Homo sapiens: one gene and its partners. The protein of the gene in region 2 interacts with the protein of the main gene of each other region in a pairwise test. Each region holds a gene or a part of one and is shown on either strand. Other genes may lie near its edges.

The links.
Region 1: the proteins of PTS (region 2) and FXR2 interact in binary tests that used the Homo sapiens proteins (3 or more experiments, as listed by UniProt).
Region 3: the proteins of PTS (region 2) and NTAQ1 interact in binary tests that used the Homo sapiens proteins (3 or more experiments, as listed by UniProt).
Region 4: the proteins of PTS (region 2) and CDK16 interact in a two-hybrid assay, tested with the Homo sapiens proteins (one study listed by IntAct).

What each region holds. Positions count from the first base shown.
Region 1 is NC_000017.11:7,590,784-7,594,761, forward strand, and holds the end of FXR2 (RNA-binding protein FXR2), read right to left. Parts: intron 3,975-3,978; coding exon 3,896-3,974; intron 3,565-3,895; coding exon 3,455-3,564; intron 3,222-3,454; coding exon 3,135-3,221; intron 2,843-3,134; coding exon 2,620-2,842; intron 2,399-2,619; coding exon 2,201-2,398; intron 2,112-2,200; coding exon 1,911-2,111; intron 1,817-1,910; coding exon 1,721-1,816; intron 1,572-1,720; coding exon 1,471-1,571; intron 1,375-1,470; coding exon of another isoform or gene 1,339-1,374; exon of another isoform or gene 1,283-1,338; intron 1,143-1,282; coding exon 1,047-1,142; 3' UTR 447-1,046; downstream 1-446. UniProt on the Homo sapiens protein: mRNA-binding protein that acts as a regulator of mRNAs translation and/or stability, and which is required for adult hippocampal neurogenesis. Specifically binds to AU-rich elements (AREs) in the 3'-UTR of target mRNAs.
Region 2 is NC_000011.10:112,231,658-112,234,658, reverse strand, and holds the end of PTS (6-pyruvoyl tetrahydrobiopterin synthase), read right to left. Parts: intron 1,497-3,001; coding exon 1,426-1,496; intron 1,228-1,425; coding exon 1,104-1,227; 3' UTR 686-1,103; downstream 1-685. UniProt on the Homo sapiens protein: Involved in the biosynthesis of tetrahydrobiopterin, an essential cofactor of aromatic amino acid hydroxylases. Catalyzes the transformation of 7,8-dihydroneopterin triphosphate into 6-pyruvoyl tetrahydropterin.
Region 3 is NC_000008.11:123,437,089-123,441,066, reverse strand, and holds part of NTAQ1 (protein N-terminal glutamine amidohydrolase), read right to left. Parts: intron 3,858-3,978; coding exon 3,733-3,857; intron 2,934-3,732; coding exon of another isoform or gene 2,851-2,933; exon of another isoform or gene 2,738-2,850; intron 1-2,737. UniProt on the Homo sapiens protein: Mediates the side-chain deamidation of N-terminal glutamine residues to glutamate, an important step in N-end rule pathway of protein degradation.
Region 4 is NC_000023.11:47,221,203-47,225,180, reverse strand, and holds part of CDK16 (cyclin-dependent kinase 16), read right to left. Parts: exon of another isoform or gene 2,921-3,978; coding exon of another isoform or gene 2,839-2,920; exon of another isoform or gene 2,801-2,838; intron 2,131-2,800; exon of another isoform or gene 2,086-2,130; coding exon of another isoform or gene 1,870-2,085; intron 1,630-1,869; coding exon of another isoform or gene 1,624-1,629; coding exon 1,422-1,623; intron 797-1,421; coding exon 663-796; intron 564-662; coding exon 438-563; intron 348-437; coding exon 291-347; intron 194-290; coding exon 79-193; intron 1-78. UniProt on the Homo sapiens protein: Protein kinase that plays a role in vesicle-mediated transport processes and exocytosis. Regulates GH1 release by brain neurons. Phosphorylates NSF, and thereby regulates NSF oligomerization. Required for normal spermatogenesis.

The DNA of each region.
Region 1 (3,978 bases), on a different chromosome or scaffold from region 2:
CGGGCTCCAGAGGCTGCTGTGAGGGAACCCTGCTCCCCACTCTGCCCAACGGCCCAGCCCAAGCCCCAGGCCTCAGGTAATCGGATTAAGCAGCCTGCCTTGGCTCTCAGCTTCTACAGGAACAGCTCCAGCTCTGAGCAGCCCTGCCTAGCCTGTGCTGTGACTCAGGGTATAGGAGTGGCCCAACTCCCTCTACCAGCAAACTTGGGGGAGGGGAGAAGCAACAAGGCACAAGCCCCCCTCCTCTGAACCAGGAGGGAGAACCTGGGCCTGGGGAGTTTAGGAATGTCAGGAATTCCCAGAAGTAAGACCATCTTTGGGACAAGAGACAATGAAGAGAAGTCAGATGTGGAGGAACAGAAAACAAGAGCCAGGGGCCAGGGCAGGTCAGTCCTAGAGAAACAAATGGACCAAACTGGGGACAAAGAAGGCACAGGAGCCAGACAGCCATTTGGATTTTTTTATTCTCTTTTTAAATACTGTACAGTGAAAAATAAATACGCCTTCTCATCCACCAGACAAGGTTGGTCCCCTCCCCAGGGGGACCTTGTCACCCCCCTTCATACACACCCCTGGTTCTACTCCAAAACCTTCCCCGTGCCTCCCACCCACTTATCTCTTACTATCCCCGTCTTCCACAGTGATGAGGCCCCAGAAATGGGGGGTACAGGATGGGAGGAGGGATAGCAGGGGAGGCCCCCTGAACGGTCAAATCTGGGTGGGTCGAGGAGCACCCCCCACCAACAGGTGGAGAATGGGGGTGTTCAGAGAGAGATTGGGGCATTAGAGGATAAAGGCACATCCAGTCTGATGGGGAAGGAGAGAGGCTCCCCTTACCCTGGGGGTAGGGTGGACAAGAGGGAGGGGGTATGACCCTGTTACACACCCCTCCACTAGCTCCTGGAGGTTGGGGGGTACCCAAGCTGCTGTGCCACCCCCCTCCCCCCTAGATAAGAGCAGCTCCAGCGCAGGTCAGTTGGGCCTGTGAGGGCCATGGTGTTGGGCAGCAAGCGAGATGGAGAAGGGAGGGGTGCAGGTTGGAGGTTTTATGAAACCCCATTCACCATACTACCCAACTCCAAGGGGGCGGAGAGCTCCCCATTCTCCGAGGGGCCCTTAGGAAGCTTGCTGACAGAGTCACCCTGAGGGGAAAGTGGGAAAGAAAACAGAAAAGCAAGAAGCGGTGAGTAGAAATTCAGGTGGGAGACATTCCCTACCATCCAAGCCCTCCTGGCATTTGGTGATCCAGAGGTTGGTTCCCTGATCTCATGATCCAGTCTCTCTTACTTGGGATCCAGAAAATGTGAACCACACTTTCTTCTCTATCCTATTCAAAGTTTACACTGGTCTAAACTCCATCAGACACAGCTGCCTCTGCAATTCAGTAGGAGATTTGTGAAATTTTTTGTGCCCCCTGCCCCAGAGTAACAACAAAAAAGGGATGGGGTAAAGCACATCTTGCCTGCCTACCTTCTGTCCTGAAAGAGAGTCTTCTGAGGGTTTAGTGCGTTCCAGGGGTGGCCTCTGGCGGCTCTGAGACTCTGCTCGTGAGATATAGTCAGCCACAGTCACTGGGGAAGGCAGGAGATTAAGACTTTCAGATGGAATTCTGGTAGCCAGCCTAAGACACCCACTGAACCCGAACCCCTGATTTTCACAGGGGTGAGCATCCCATTCTCTCAGCTCTGAGGAAGGATTCTGGTGTCCAGAGTTGGCTGACCTGGCTGGCGGTCTCCACTGATAGAGCCATCAGTCCGATTACCACGGTTACGGCGGCGGCGGCTGCGATTACGACGTTGAGGTCTTGATTCATCTTCTGTAGGGTAGGAAAAAACCAGAGTCACACATCCAACCTCCCACCCTCGATTCCTACCCATCTCTAACTTTCCAGACCCCAGGCACACCCTCACCCAGGCCATTCTCTGTCATGTTGGGCCCATCTGATTCCAGGCCTCCATCCATGACGGTCCTGTCTTCATCAGTGCGGCGGCGGCGGGAGCGGCGGCGCCTGGCACTTGCTGGGGGGGGTTCCCCAGGTTCTGAATCAACCGGGGGCTCTGGTTCAGACGTGTCCAATAGGCTGTAGGGATTACTGTCTGGATCCTTCAGCACTGGTCAGAGGAAGAAGAGGAGGAGTTGGCAGTCAGGTGCCCATCATCTTTCCTTTTGGCCCATATTCATGAACCCAGCTGTCTGGTACCTGAGCTAATAGATGAAGAATTGTATCTCGAAGTGGGCCGGGGGGCAGGTGGGGGTCCCCTACCCCGGCCCCCAGTCGGCCGCCTCCGGCTTTCTTCCCCTCGGGTTGGGGGATCCCTGTCGCCAGGCCCAGCTCGGTTGGGCTCCTCTCTCTTCTCTGACTCAGTCTCTGAAGCTGTAGACACATCTGAGCTGGGGCCTGAAGAACACAATGGGATTTATTCACGGCCATTCATCCCACCTCAGGATCCATCACATCCCCCAAACTGGAAGAATTCTCCTTCTCACTCACAAGCCTCCCAGCCAATCAATCACTTTTTCATCATCTCCATTCCAGATTTCCCCAAACTTCCATCCAGACCTCTGCCTCTACCCACAAGCCCTGCCACTCCTTGCCTCCTGTTCCCATAACTGTCTCACCATAGGCAGGACCGCCTGTCCTCCGGCCACGGCCACGGCCCCCATAGCTGCCCCCATAGGTTCGAGTCGCATGGAGGGAGGAGGAGGAGCTCTCATCAGTGCTATATCCAGCCTTGTCGCTGCCACCGCTGCCCCGCCCACTCCCAGGAGGGCGAAAGCCCAGCCCAATCTGCCGAAGCTGCTCATCAATTTGTAGCCTCTCCAAGCGAAGCTGCTCTACCTCCTGGTTGGGTAAAAGATGGAAGAAGGGGAAGGAGAAATAAGATCAGTGCCTTGCTTCATGCTTCTGCACCCTGACTGTCCCTCTATATCTAACCTCTCAGGAATGCAGGGAGAAGGAAGACACTGGCTAAACAAGGAAAATTCTGGGACCCAACCCTATAGCCCCAAATTTCCACAGATGTTTTCTGTTCTACACGGAGAGACAAACAGAGAACCAAAATCCCTGAGCTGACCCCCACAGCAGTCTTAGTTCCCTTTTCACACCCAGCATTTTTCTCTCCCGGCCTGGGTACCTGCAGGTAGGAGAGGTGATACTCCAGCAAAGCCTGGGCATTGCTGATGTTCTCTCGGGTGCCAACAAAAATGAAGGGAACCATTCCCTAGAGAACAGAGAGCAGAAACGATGGATCAGAAAGGAAAATGAAATGGAAGGATTAACGCCGCCCAGTCTCCTAGGGGAGCCTGCCCAGTGGGATCATTCTGGGCTCTAAATCTACTAGTGTTAAACAACTTTCCGTACTCCACCCTCTCAAAGAACAATCCCAGCCCTCAGAGGACAATCCCATTTACTTCTGGAAACCAATCTCTATGCCCACTTGCCCCGTACCCATACCTCCTCCCTGGGGTTCTTCTTGTCATTATCACCTTCCACTCGAACCCTCACCACACCAGATTTATCCACAATCTCCTGGATCACTTTCCCGTTCTTTCCAATCACTTTGCCTGGAATAGGTAAATGAGGAATTCAGCCTTTTATTTTTTTTAAGGAAATAAGAATAAAGCTGATACACCGTCTTCCAGCCTCATTTTCTTTATATGGATTCCATTTACTTCATTCTCCTGCTTCTAGGTTTCTGATGTGTTTTTACAGGACAAAATGTTACAATCCCTAGAAATTTATTCTTTCATTTTTATCACTCCCATTACAGACTGTTTCTCTGTCCTTGTGAAACTGGGAGTCCACAGGGAGGTGCCAATCCTGGATAAAAGCTCAGAATCACTGTAGAGAATCTTGATTCTGACCTCTAACTGTATATACACACCACCAACTCACCAACCAGGTTCCTGGGCACTTGCACTGAGTCCTCAGAAAACTCAAGGTAGCTTCGGGCCTGTCGGCAAGCCTCGGGAGTCTAA
Region 2 (3,001 bases):
AGTTTTTCTAGAATAGTAATCACTGCAAAAGTCCTTTTACTATTTTCAGGCAACAACATTCTGGGAATTCATTGTATACTAGTTGCTATGTGGAGAGAAAATCAGAACCCTGCGTTTAAGACATTTAGAAAACAAACAAGAACACAGAACAGTCTTCCGTGCAAAGTAAGCAAATACTTTCTTGTGGATTTAGTCACGAGGAAAAGATCCCAGAGAAGAATGCCAAGCATATAGTAAGTTTAATAATCAGAACAAAATGGGATCAATTAGGAAAAACTATATACAGGAAATATTTTATATGGTAGTTGATCCTTTTTATGCTGACTATTTTTTAGAGTTTAAAATATGATTATTCTGCAGTCTTCTGAGTTGAAATTATTCAAGTGCCCATCAGGTTCAGAAATTCAGAGGAGTATACTGAATAATTTACTGATATTCCATGATATGTTTAATGTGTTGTTCCTCACTAGCAATTCATAGTTCAATACGCTGTGCAAAATTGTAATGAATGATGTGCTCTAAAGCAGCATTTCCATCAATATTTGTACGTGTATCCACAACAGATGCCTCACATGATTTGTGTGTCTAATTTTCACTGAATCCACTTATGCCTTCAGCACACCCAACAAGTAGTAATCAAGAGAGTTCAATCTATTAAATATACATATATATATTGTCTCCAGACTTTGTGGTCACTTGAATTTTATTTCTTTAAGATTCACCTACTCGAAGTCACATAAGCATTTTAACCATGTATATTATACCAAGTAAAAATTAATACTAAAATGAGGTAATGGAGAAAACAAAATTAGATTTCTTTTGCTTTCAAATAATCCCACACCAAAACATTTTGTGAAAATGAAGTGATTTTTAATTTATAAATAAAAGACTCTCTAAATGATTTTCAGGATGTATATTACAAGTTTAGTTTTAAATAGACTTAAATTTATAACAGGTCTTACAATGATTTCAATAAATAGGCACTCCAGAGCACAATGTGTACGTACAACAATCACGTGTTGACCTCTTAATATTCCAAGGGGATCAAAATCTTTTTCAAACACAGAAAGAAACTGGGCTTTGTGCAATGCTAACCCCAATAGCTATTCTCCTTTATAAACCACAATATTATTGTCAGTTTCGTATACTTTTACTTTATAAAGAACTCCTACAGGAAGAACTTTCTGGAGGTTGTCCCAGATATAAACAGCTACATTTTCAGTCGTGCTATAAGAAAAAAAAACAAAAACAAAAAAAATTCAAAATGCAAACAATAAAATTTCATGTTTAATATTTACAGAAAATAGAAATTCTAGTTTCGAAAGATTTCATTAAATTAAAACTTCAGAAATCACACAACAATCAAAGTATTCAAATCAATTCTTGTTTTACAATCCACATAAGGCAAGATACAGTGCCACCCACCTCACCACATCTGCAAAGTATGGCACATCCATATCCAGATTCTTATGATCAAGGGGCTGCATAATCGCCTCCTAGAGACAAAACCAAGGGAAAATATCATTGACTCCATTTACGACTCAAATTCCAAATTGTTCCACTTATGCCTCTAAACCTCACCTTATCACTTAGCCACTAACTAAATATTTGTAAGTACTAGATTTGAGTCTTACAAGGCAACTTTACAAAATTTCAAGTTGTAAAATAAAGTCAGGCCCAGCTGTCGGTAATGATTAGGAATCCTTGTTACTGAATAAAAAGAGGTGAGAAACCAAAAAGCAGAGAATTCCTGGAGCTTTCTCGCAACACAAGCCATTGTAATTCAGAATTCAGTTTAACACTTTGTGAATCCTGTCCAAACAGTTAGCACAAATATTTTTCCATAACACTGTCACACCTACGGAACAATGCCACAATATCATAAGGACAAAGATCCAGTGACTACTACATTTTATAAAGCAGACCTAGACTGAAATTATGTAAGTAGTTCTAAATTTTTGCTATGAGGAATAATTTAAGAATGATCTTGGGCTCATAGAAGGAAAAATATATATATGTAAAGACTATTACTCCCTAATGCTCGTGTATATTAACATAATGTTTTTCCTCATCATCAGCAAGGATTAAATTGCCTCATTCTTTCTAGGTTTTTGCTTTTAGCTATTGCAAAAAATCTAAGCATCTGTGAAAAAAAAATGTAATTTTCCATAGGACGTAGTTTGAAGAAGGGTACATTAATAACAGTAACAGCAATCATTTCTTGAGAAAAACTAGAATCATACAAAAAGAGTAAGTCCTAGATCAAACAGTTATTGAAATATATCCAATGAAGGGATGTTCCACATGAATAACAAGAAAACGGGCATCCTTGCTTCATCTTCAATCCCAGTTCCAGTCCCAATTTCTCCATTAAAGCCTCTTATGCAGGGCTTTTTGTTTTCTTTTGTTTTGTTTTTAGAGACAGGGTCTCTGTCATCCAGGCTGGAGTGCAAGTGGCATAATCATAGCTCACTGCAGCCTTGAACTCCTGGACTCAAGCAATCCTCCCCCCACGGTAGAGCTCTAACTTTACTCTACATGCCATGATAAGCCACTTTTACTGATGAAAGTGTGTGGTGTCCTTCAGGCATACAAAAGCAGAAAACAGCATAGAGAAGCCCTCCTCCAGTATTTAGTCATATGTTGAGGCCTTTTATGTTGCTGTCTTGTCTCTTTTCTTTCTTTTCTTTTCTTTTCTCTTTTTCTTTTTCTTTCTTTCCCCTCCCCTCTCCTCCCCTGTCCTCCCCTCCCCCTCCTCTTCTCCTGTCTCTGTCTCCCTCTCTCTCTCTCTCCGCCTGCCCCCCAACCCCTGCCCCATAAATGCATGCTGGCCCTATCTGTATAACTTTCCTAAAGTATTTTGAGCATAGTGCTGTTTCTTCATTCACTCATTCTTCTACTCATTTATTAAATCAACAGTTATTTAATAATATTCTTCACCTCCTAGAAAAAGTAATGTATACACTCTGTGGGCTACATCTCATTCATCTTTGTACACTTA
Region 3 (3,978 bases), on a different chromosome or scaffold from region 2:
TCCAAAGATCAGCAGAGGGGACCCCCGAGTCTTTGGCTAAGTACTGATCTTCTCTTCTATGGAACGAAACTTCATGAGGCCAGGGAAAGAAGCACCAAGAAGCGGTGGGTCTAATAATCCCCAGAACTTCCACAGGGCTAGAAATAATTCATGTCACCACCAGCCAGAGTGGAGAGAACTCGTAACATGCAGCGTTCAGTAGCGTCCTCAGAAGGGTCATGTCAGAGTAGGGGGGCTAAATTAGCCCTCGATGAAAGGCTGCTCTGAGCCAAGCATGTTGGCTCACACCTGTAATCCCAGCACTTTGGGAGGCCGAGGTGGGCAGATCACTTGAGGTCAGAAGTTAAGAGAACAGCCTGGCCAACATGGTGAAACCCCATCTCTACTAAAAATACAAAAATTAGCTGGGTATGGTGGCACACCTCTCTAATTCCAGCTACTTAGGAGGCTGAGACAGGAGAATTGCTTGAACCTGGGAGTTGGAGGGTGTAATGAGCCAAGATCACGCCACTTCACTCCAGCCTGGGCAACAGAGCAAGGCTTTGTCTAAAAAAAAAAAAAAAAGAAGAAAGGAACGCTACTCTCAACCTTTACTCAGAAAGACGAAAAGCAGCCAGGCGTGGTGGCTCACGCCTATAATCCCAGCACTTTGGGAAGCTAAGAGGGGTGGATCACTTGAGGTCAGGAGTTCGAGACCAGCCTGGCCAACGTGGTGAAACCCCGTCTCTACTAAAAATACAAAAACTAGCCAGGTGTGGTAGTGGGTGCCTAGAATCCAAGCTACTTGGGAGGCTGAGGCAGGAGAATCGCTTGAATCCAGGAGGCAGAGGTTGTAGCAAGCCAAGATTGTGCCACTGCACTCCAGCCTGGGCAATAGAGCAAGACTCCGTCTCAAAAAAAAAAAAAAAAAAAAAAAAAAAGGAGTTAATCCTGGCCAGCGTGGTGGCTCATGCCTATAATCTCAGTATTTTGGGAGGCCAAGGTAGGAGCAATATACTGAGACCCTACCTTGATTAAAAAAAAAAAAGAGTCAATTCCATAACTAAATCCAACATACCCAATAATGCATGTATCTAAAACATGCATTAATTTAAAGTCTGTTTTCTTTTTTTTGAGACAGAGTCTCCCTCTGTCACCCAGGCTAGAGTGCAGTGGTGCAATTTTGGCTCATTGCGACCTCCACCTCCCAGATTCAAGCAATTCTCCTGCCTCAGCCTCCTGAGTAGCTGGGATTACAGGCGTGCACCACCACGCCTGGCTAATTTTTGGTTAATATGGGCCAGGCACAGTGGCTCACCCCTGTAATCCCAGCACTTTGGGAGGCCAAGGCAGAAGGATCACCTGAGGCCAAGAGTTCAAGACCAGCCTAGCCCACATGGCAAAACCTCATGTCTACTAAAAATATAAAAACTAACCAGGTGTGGCCGGCGCGGTGGCTCACGCCTGTAATCCCAGCACTTTGGGAGGCCGAGGCGGGCAGATCACGAGGTCAGGAGATCGAGACCATCCTGGCTAACACGGTAAGACCCCATCTCTACTAAAAATACAAAAAAAAAATTAGCCGGGTGTGGTGGCGGGCGCCTGTAGTCCCAGCTACTCAGGAGGCTGAGGCAGGAGAATGGCATGAACCCGGGAGGCGGAGCTTGCAGTGAGCTGACATCGCACCACTGCACTCCAGCGTGGGTGACAGAGTGAGACTCCGTCTCAAAAAAAAAAAAAAACTAGCCAGGTGTGATGGTGTATGCCTGTAATCCCAACTAATCCAGAGGCTGAGGCATGAAAATTGCTTGAACTCAGGAGATGGAGGTTGCAGTGAGCTGGGATCGTGCCACTGCACTCCAGCCTGGGCAACAAGAGTCTCAACAAAAAAAAAAGAAAGAAAGAAAATTGGGCTGGCAGTGCTCACCTCGGCAGCCCATATAGTAATTGGGCTGGCAAAAGCCCAGCACAAAACAGCATCCAATGACTAGTAGTCATCAAAACAAAAGGAATTGCCCCAGTTGGACCAGGGCTGACAAGGGGTTCACTAAATGCCTGCGATGCACTAGGTTCTGTCTTAGGTGCTCACATCTCAAGGGGAAACAGGTAGCTGCTAAAGGCACACTGTGGCCAGACCAGGCCCTGTAGAGCAGGTTGCCATAGATGCTAAGGCAGACCCCTCGAGCCCTCTCCTTACCAGGGAGCTTCCCCAGTTCTCACACTGAGGCCAGGAAGCAGCTCTGTGTACTGATAAGCAATTCCAATATAATTTTTTAAATTATGAGAGCTTTTCATAGAGAGCCTCAAAAATCAGAGTTTGAACCCTCTCTTAGTGTTCAGTCCCCTCAAATATGCCAAATGTATATTTTACTTTCTTCCGTTAAACTATTTTTTTCTTTTTCTTTTTTTTTTTTTGAGATGGAATCTTGCTCTTGTCACTCAGGCTGGAGTGCAGTGGTGCGATCTCGGCTCACTGCAACCTCTGCCTCCCGGTTCAAGCAATTACCCGGTTCAAGTAATTCTCCTGTCTCAGTCTCCCAAGGAGCTGGGACTTCAGGCACACACCACCACACCCGGCTAATTTTTGTATTTTTAGTAGAGACGGAGTTTCACCACATTGGTCAGGCTAGTCTCGAACTCCTGACCTCAGGTGGTCCACCCACCTCAGCCTCCCAAAGTGCTGGGATTACAGGCATAAGCCACCACGCTCAGACCCTTGTTGAAGTACTAACACTACTGCCCTATTTTTCTGACATGCTGCAGAGCTCACAGAGCACTTTCACACAGACTGTATTATCCAGGTGTTGGGATGATCTCACCCCTAAGTGGGAATGTTGTGAATTACTTACAAACGTAAATAATACTTCAAACTCATATGAATGCCAAACAATAGTAATAGGGTGAAGGACCCTTTATCTTCTTAAATGTCAGGAAATTATCAACTGGATTGATGCCTAAAAGCACATAAATGAGACAAGTGGTACAATAAAACCTGCTAGCGCTCACCTCCCTCTAATGCAGATTTTATTATATAGCCAAAGTGACATTTCACACATCATAAGGATGCAATGGGGATTTCTTTCACCACAGCACAAAACCCTACCATGGCAAGGTGCTACTAGTCCCGCTGTTAAATGACACAAGCATGCGAGTATCCTGATGTTCAGTGTCCCCGCAGTAGCTACATCCAATAATCCAGCAGTTTGCAGGTGCCCTGGTTCTGATCCTTAACACCCTTCCTCTCCCACATGTTCTTATGCCTTCCAGTCCTATTCTCTGTGCCTTCATTTCTGAATCTAATACACACACAGAAGTAGTATTTCCTATGACCTCCTTATCATTCATGGAATTTTTTGTTTTTTGTTTTTTGTTTTTTTTTTTTTTTGAGATGGAGTCTCACTCTGTCACCCAGGCTGGAATGCAGTGGCCCGATCTCAGCTCACTGCAAGCTCTGCCTCCCAGGTTCGCACCATTCTCCTGCCTCAGCCTCCCTAGTAGCTGGGACTACAGGTGCCTGTCACCACACCTGGCTAATTTTTTGTATTTTTAGTAGAGACAGGGTTTCACCGTGTTAGCCAGGATGGTGTCTATCTCCTGACCTCGTGATCCGCCCACCTCGGCCTCCCAAAGTGCTGGGATTCACTCATGGAGTTTTATTCAAAGAACAACCTGACTTTTGTCCTCCGTTAAGGAAAAATGCTGATGTGTATGTGATCAATCAGAACCCCCATCTGAGAAGGCATCTTGGCTCACCTCCAGTCTCAATGCAGGGATATGGCGGCGGAGGCTCTCTCCAATTCCCACTGGAGTCTTTCATGTGAGATCGGTCAGAAGCAAAGTTCTTCAAATATGAATCTGCACGGATCACTCTAAATTTCCTGCAGAAAAATCAATATACACTCACATTAGGGAGATGTCATGTTTGAAATTCTAACTCCATTTTTATATCGACTCATTTCCTATGACATGCACAAAACTACTCATGCATTTCTGTATGGT
Region 4 (3,978 bases), on a different chromosome or scaffold from region 2:
GTCTTTGTTCTCATTATGGAGTGTGTGCGCCAGGGGTGGGTTGGGGAAGCCTGGGGCAGATGGGATGGGGGTGTGTACCTTCCCGGATGGCGGTGCAGGGTGCCCCCTCTTCATGTTCCAGTCTGATCTCCTTGAGTGCCACAAGGTTGTCTGTGAGCTTGCTTTTGCCTTTGTAGACGGTGGCATAGGTACCCTGGAATGTGAGGAAGTGTGACAGGAGAGGTGCTATGAGATTCCAGGAGTTCCCACTGACCTTCATCCCCACCATGGGCCTCCTATTTGCCTCTCACCTCGCCCAGTTTGTCCAGCTTAATGTAGGTCTCCAGTTTCCCAAAGCCAATCTCAGACTGTGGGACAAATGAGGCAGGTTAAAGCTGGCTCAGGAGAAGGGTCTGGGAGAGAAGAAAAAGGAGAGGACGGGAACAGAAGGTGCTTACTAGGCTGACACGACGGAGGCGGCGGCTGAGGGGCTTGTCAAAGATGGGGCTATTGAGGGTCAGCTTCTCCAGGTAGCCCTCAGGCAGCCGGATGTCAGCTGGTAGTGATAGGCGCTTGTTGATGTCCTAGCAGGTAAGGCAAGAGAGAAACAGGATCATGAGCTCCACCTCCCCAGGTCCAACCCCCTTTTCCAGTTCCTCCACCATCCAGACGGGGTCAAGCACCTCAGTGGAGATCTTGCGTGGGGGATGGTTGCGCATACGCACTCTCACTGGAGACTGCACCTCATCCGAGGACGTGGCTGAAGCCTGGTCACTCTCCCCATCAGACCCCATCTTCAAGTCCTCGTGCACAATCTCTGGTGGCAGGGAGAGGGGTAGGGCAGGCCAGGTGGGGTCAGGAACCACAGGACACCCCATCCCCCACGAAACATATTCCATCATCACACATGTGTGCACGTGGCCCCCACAGGAAACCTGGAGTCCCTCGGGGAGAGGGTGATGTACCTGAGCCCAGGGAAGCTCAGGTACATCTAGGGCAGGTTGAACTGGGGGGTGGGGAAGCAAAAGTCACCTAGTGGAACCCTTCCTTCCAAGGGCAAGCTGAGCTCAGAGCCGGCAGCTAGGTGGTGGCAGGGGAAGCCAAGGGTCCTGGGAAGGCAGGCCCAGGGCAGGCAGGTACCAGAGGACTGAGGAGGCCATCATAGAGGGCAGAAGGGCAGAGGGAGCCTTGGGGCAGCTGTGACAGGCAAGGCACCTTCTGTCCCCCACCACGGGGCCTGGGCAGAAAGGCAAGAAGAGGAGCGCAGATGGACAGATAGACAGACGGTGTTGAGAGAAGATGGGAGGGAAGGGGGAGAAGAGAGCACATGGGGGGCAGAGAAAGGGCAGAAAATTTAGAGGAAAATGAGGAATGTGACCAGGAGGCAACACCTGGGAAGCAGCCTGGGGCCATATGGGAGAGGGGATAGCCAGTGGACCCACCTGGTGCAGAGCTGAGTGGGCCCCGTGCAGAACGAAGTTCCCCAGGAGCAGCACGTGTGGGGGCCTCTCCAGGGTCACTGCCGCCACCACCACCACTCTCATCCAGGCCTATCTGCTCAGGGGCACCATTGGTCTTGTCTATGCCTCGGCCACCTCGGAGTGTCATTGACAGCTGCCGTTTGATCTTCTTCATCCGATCCATGGCGATCTGAGCAAGGGACAAGGATGGAAATGGGTCTCTTATTAGCATTTGCTTGATCACCATGGGTTCCCTAAAGCCCACAGCCTAGCAGGGGGCACTGACATGAACTTGTCAGTGCTCACTCAACCACTATGGACCCCAGAGCCACTCAGGAGTTCTGGAAACCCAGCATGGATGGGGATCTTTGTCAGTACCTGCCCACCCACACAGCCAGCCCCACTGGGACCCTGCTCCTACGTAGCCCACCTGAGTTCTCAGATTTAGGTGGCTGATTGAGGGCAAGGGCCCTAACGATGGATTGTTGGGATCTAGGGGAAAAGCCCCACTGCAGGAGCAGAAGGCTCCATTGCAGATCTTCTCAGGTACAGCTGCAGTGATGGGCCCAGCCATGGGTCGGCCAGGGCGTGTGCCCAGAATTGAAGGATGGGTGACATGGTCTCGAGCACGGCCATAGAGTGGCATAGTTCCCCTAGCACCACCCTCAAAGGCCAAGGCAGACTATTCCCTGTGGCCACAGGGACCCTCTTCCTGACTTCTCTAGCACTCATCGTCATGACAACCACTGCATCATCCCATTCATCTACCCAGGTGGGGGGGGGGAGGGGAGCGTGTGTCAGGGTGTCCTGCCCAGACCCAACCACTGGGTGGGATTGTGTGGAGGGCGGGGGGGTCTCAGTGTACACCAGCTCTTCTCAGGGCTGCCAGAACGGTTTGATCAGGTTAGGACCCCTAGGGTCCAATCTAGACTTTTACAAGCCAAGTCACATTTCTCCTCTACTCAAGAATGTACATTTTTCATCACCCCAAATACACGCCCCAGTCCTCAATGTGGCCCACAGGTGTTTCTTTACCTCATTTGCCCCTATTGCCTCTTGCCCACGGCCCCCCCCCACCCCCACACCCCCCCGCCATCATTCCTAGTTGCTGTTCTGCAACCACACCCAGTAGAGTCCCACCTCGGGGCCTTTACACTGGCTGTTCCTGGTACCTGGAACACCCTTCCCCTAAATTTCGAAATGGCTCACTCCCCTCTCCCTTTGGGCCATTGCTCAAAGGTCACCTTTTTCATGAGGCCTCTGTGAATAACCCTATTTAAAATCTCAACCATCCCGAACTCCCTCACCTTGCCAGTTATCCCCCCAGCACTCATTACCTCCTCAGAAATGACACCACCTACTTATTGGTTTCTTTAGTCTTTACTGTCTATCTCCTCACCGCCACAACTAGAAGATCAGCTCCGCCAGGGTAGATTTCTGTGTTTAGGTCACGGCTATATCCTGAGGACCTGGAATAGTGACTGACACAGAGTAGATGCTCAAAAAGTGCTTATGGCAGAAATAAGTGAATCAGGGGGCTGAGGGCCTAGGACCAACCTCTGCTGAGGTGATGAGTCCCTGCTATTCATTGAACAACCCTAAACAAGGTAGCCCAGGGATGCTGGCATCGACAGGAAGATGACCTAGATGGATTGCTGAAGGGAATGGGGCCACCAAAAGGCTTAGGCCAGCCGTCTTCTGCTTCCTCTTGGGCTCTGGGCCAGCAAGGAGGGGGAAAGACCTGACCCAGGAACCATCTGGACTCACAGCAGGGCCTAAGATGGCCCTGGGCCCAAGGGAAGTAGAGCTAGATAGGAGGTCGAGGATGAGACTGGGGCTGGATTTGAGGAGAGAAATGGGTCATCTGCTACCTTGAAATCAGGTGCTTCCCCCAGCAGTTCTCGCCCCCACCTGGCTGAACTCACTATCCCCAGGAGGGGTAGGGGCCACCCTAGCAGAAAGACCTCAGATACAGGATGAGGTCCATCCATGGAGAACCCAGGATAACCACAAAACATCCTGACCTGGGAGGCTGAATACTGGGCCTAAGGCAAGGAAGGTAAAGCATGGCCAGCTCCCAAAGACAACCTTGTGTCCCCATATGGCACAGATACCCAGTTGCTTTGCATGTTGTGACAGGGAGTAGGGGAGGGGCTGGGGGAGACTGGAAGTAGGGCTGAATGGAGGATGGGGAGGAAGCCAGGAGGAGCCATGGGTCCACGACCTCTAACTGGAAACCCCAAGGGCTGGACATGCTCTGGAGTTCAGTTTTTTGGGATTTTAGGAAGATGGGGTGTAAAATCTGTATATCACATAACACTCCCAGAAAGGGGGATGGGGGTCTCAGACATGCCCCTGTGAACAGAGATAATTGAACATTTATACGCAAGGAAACTTTTAAATATCATTTCAGTTGAATGAGCTTTTTAGATTTCAAAAAAGGAGGGAGCAAGAAACTGGACATAAAACCTTACCCCAAAAAAGGCACATGTCCTGCCTGACCCTTCCTGATCCCCAAAGACATACACCCATCCTCAGA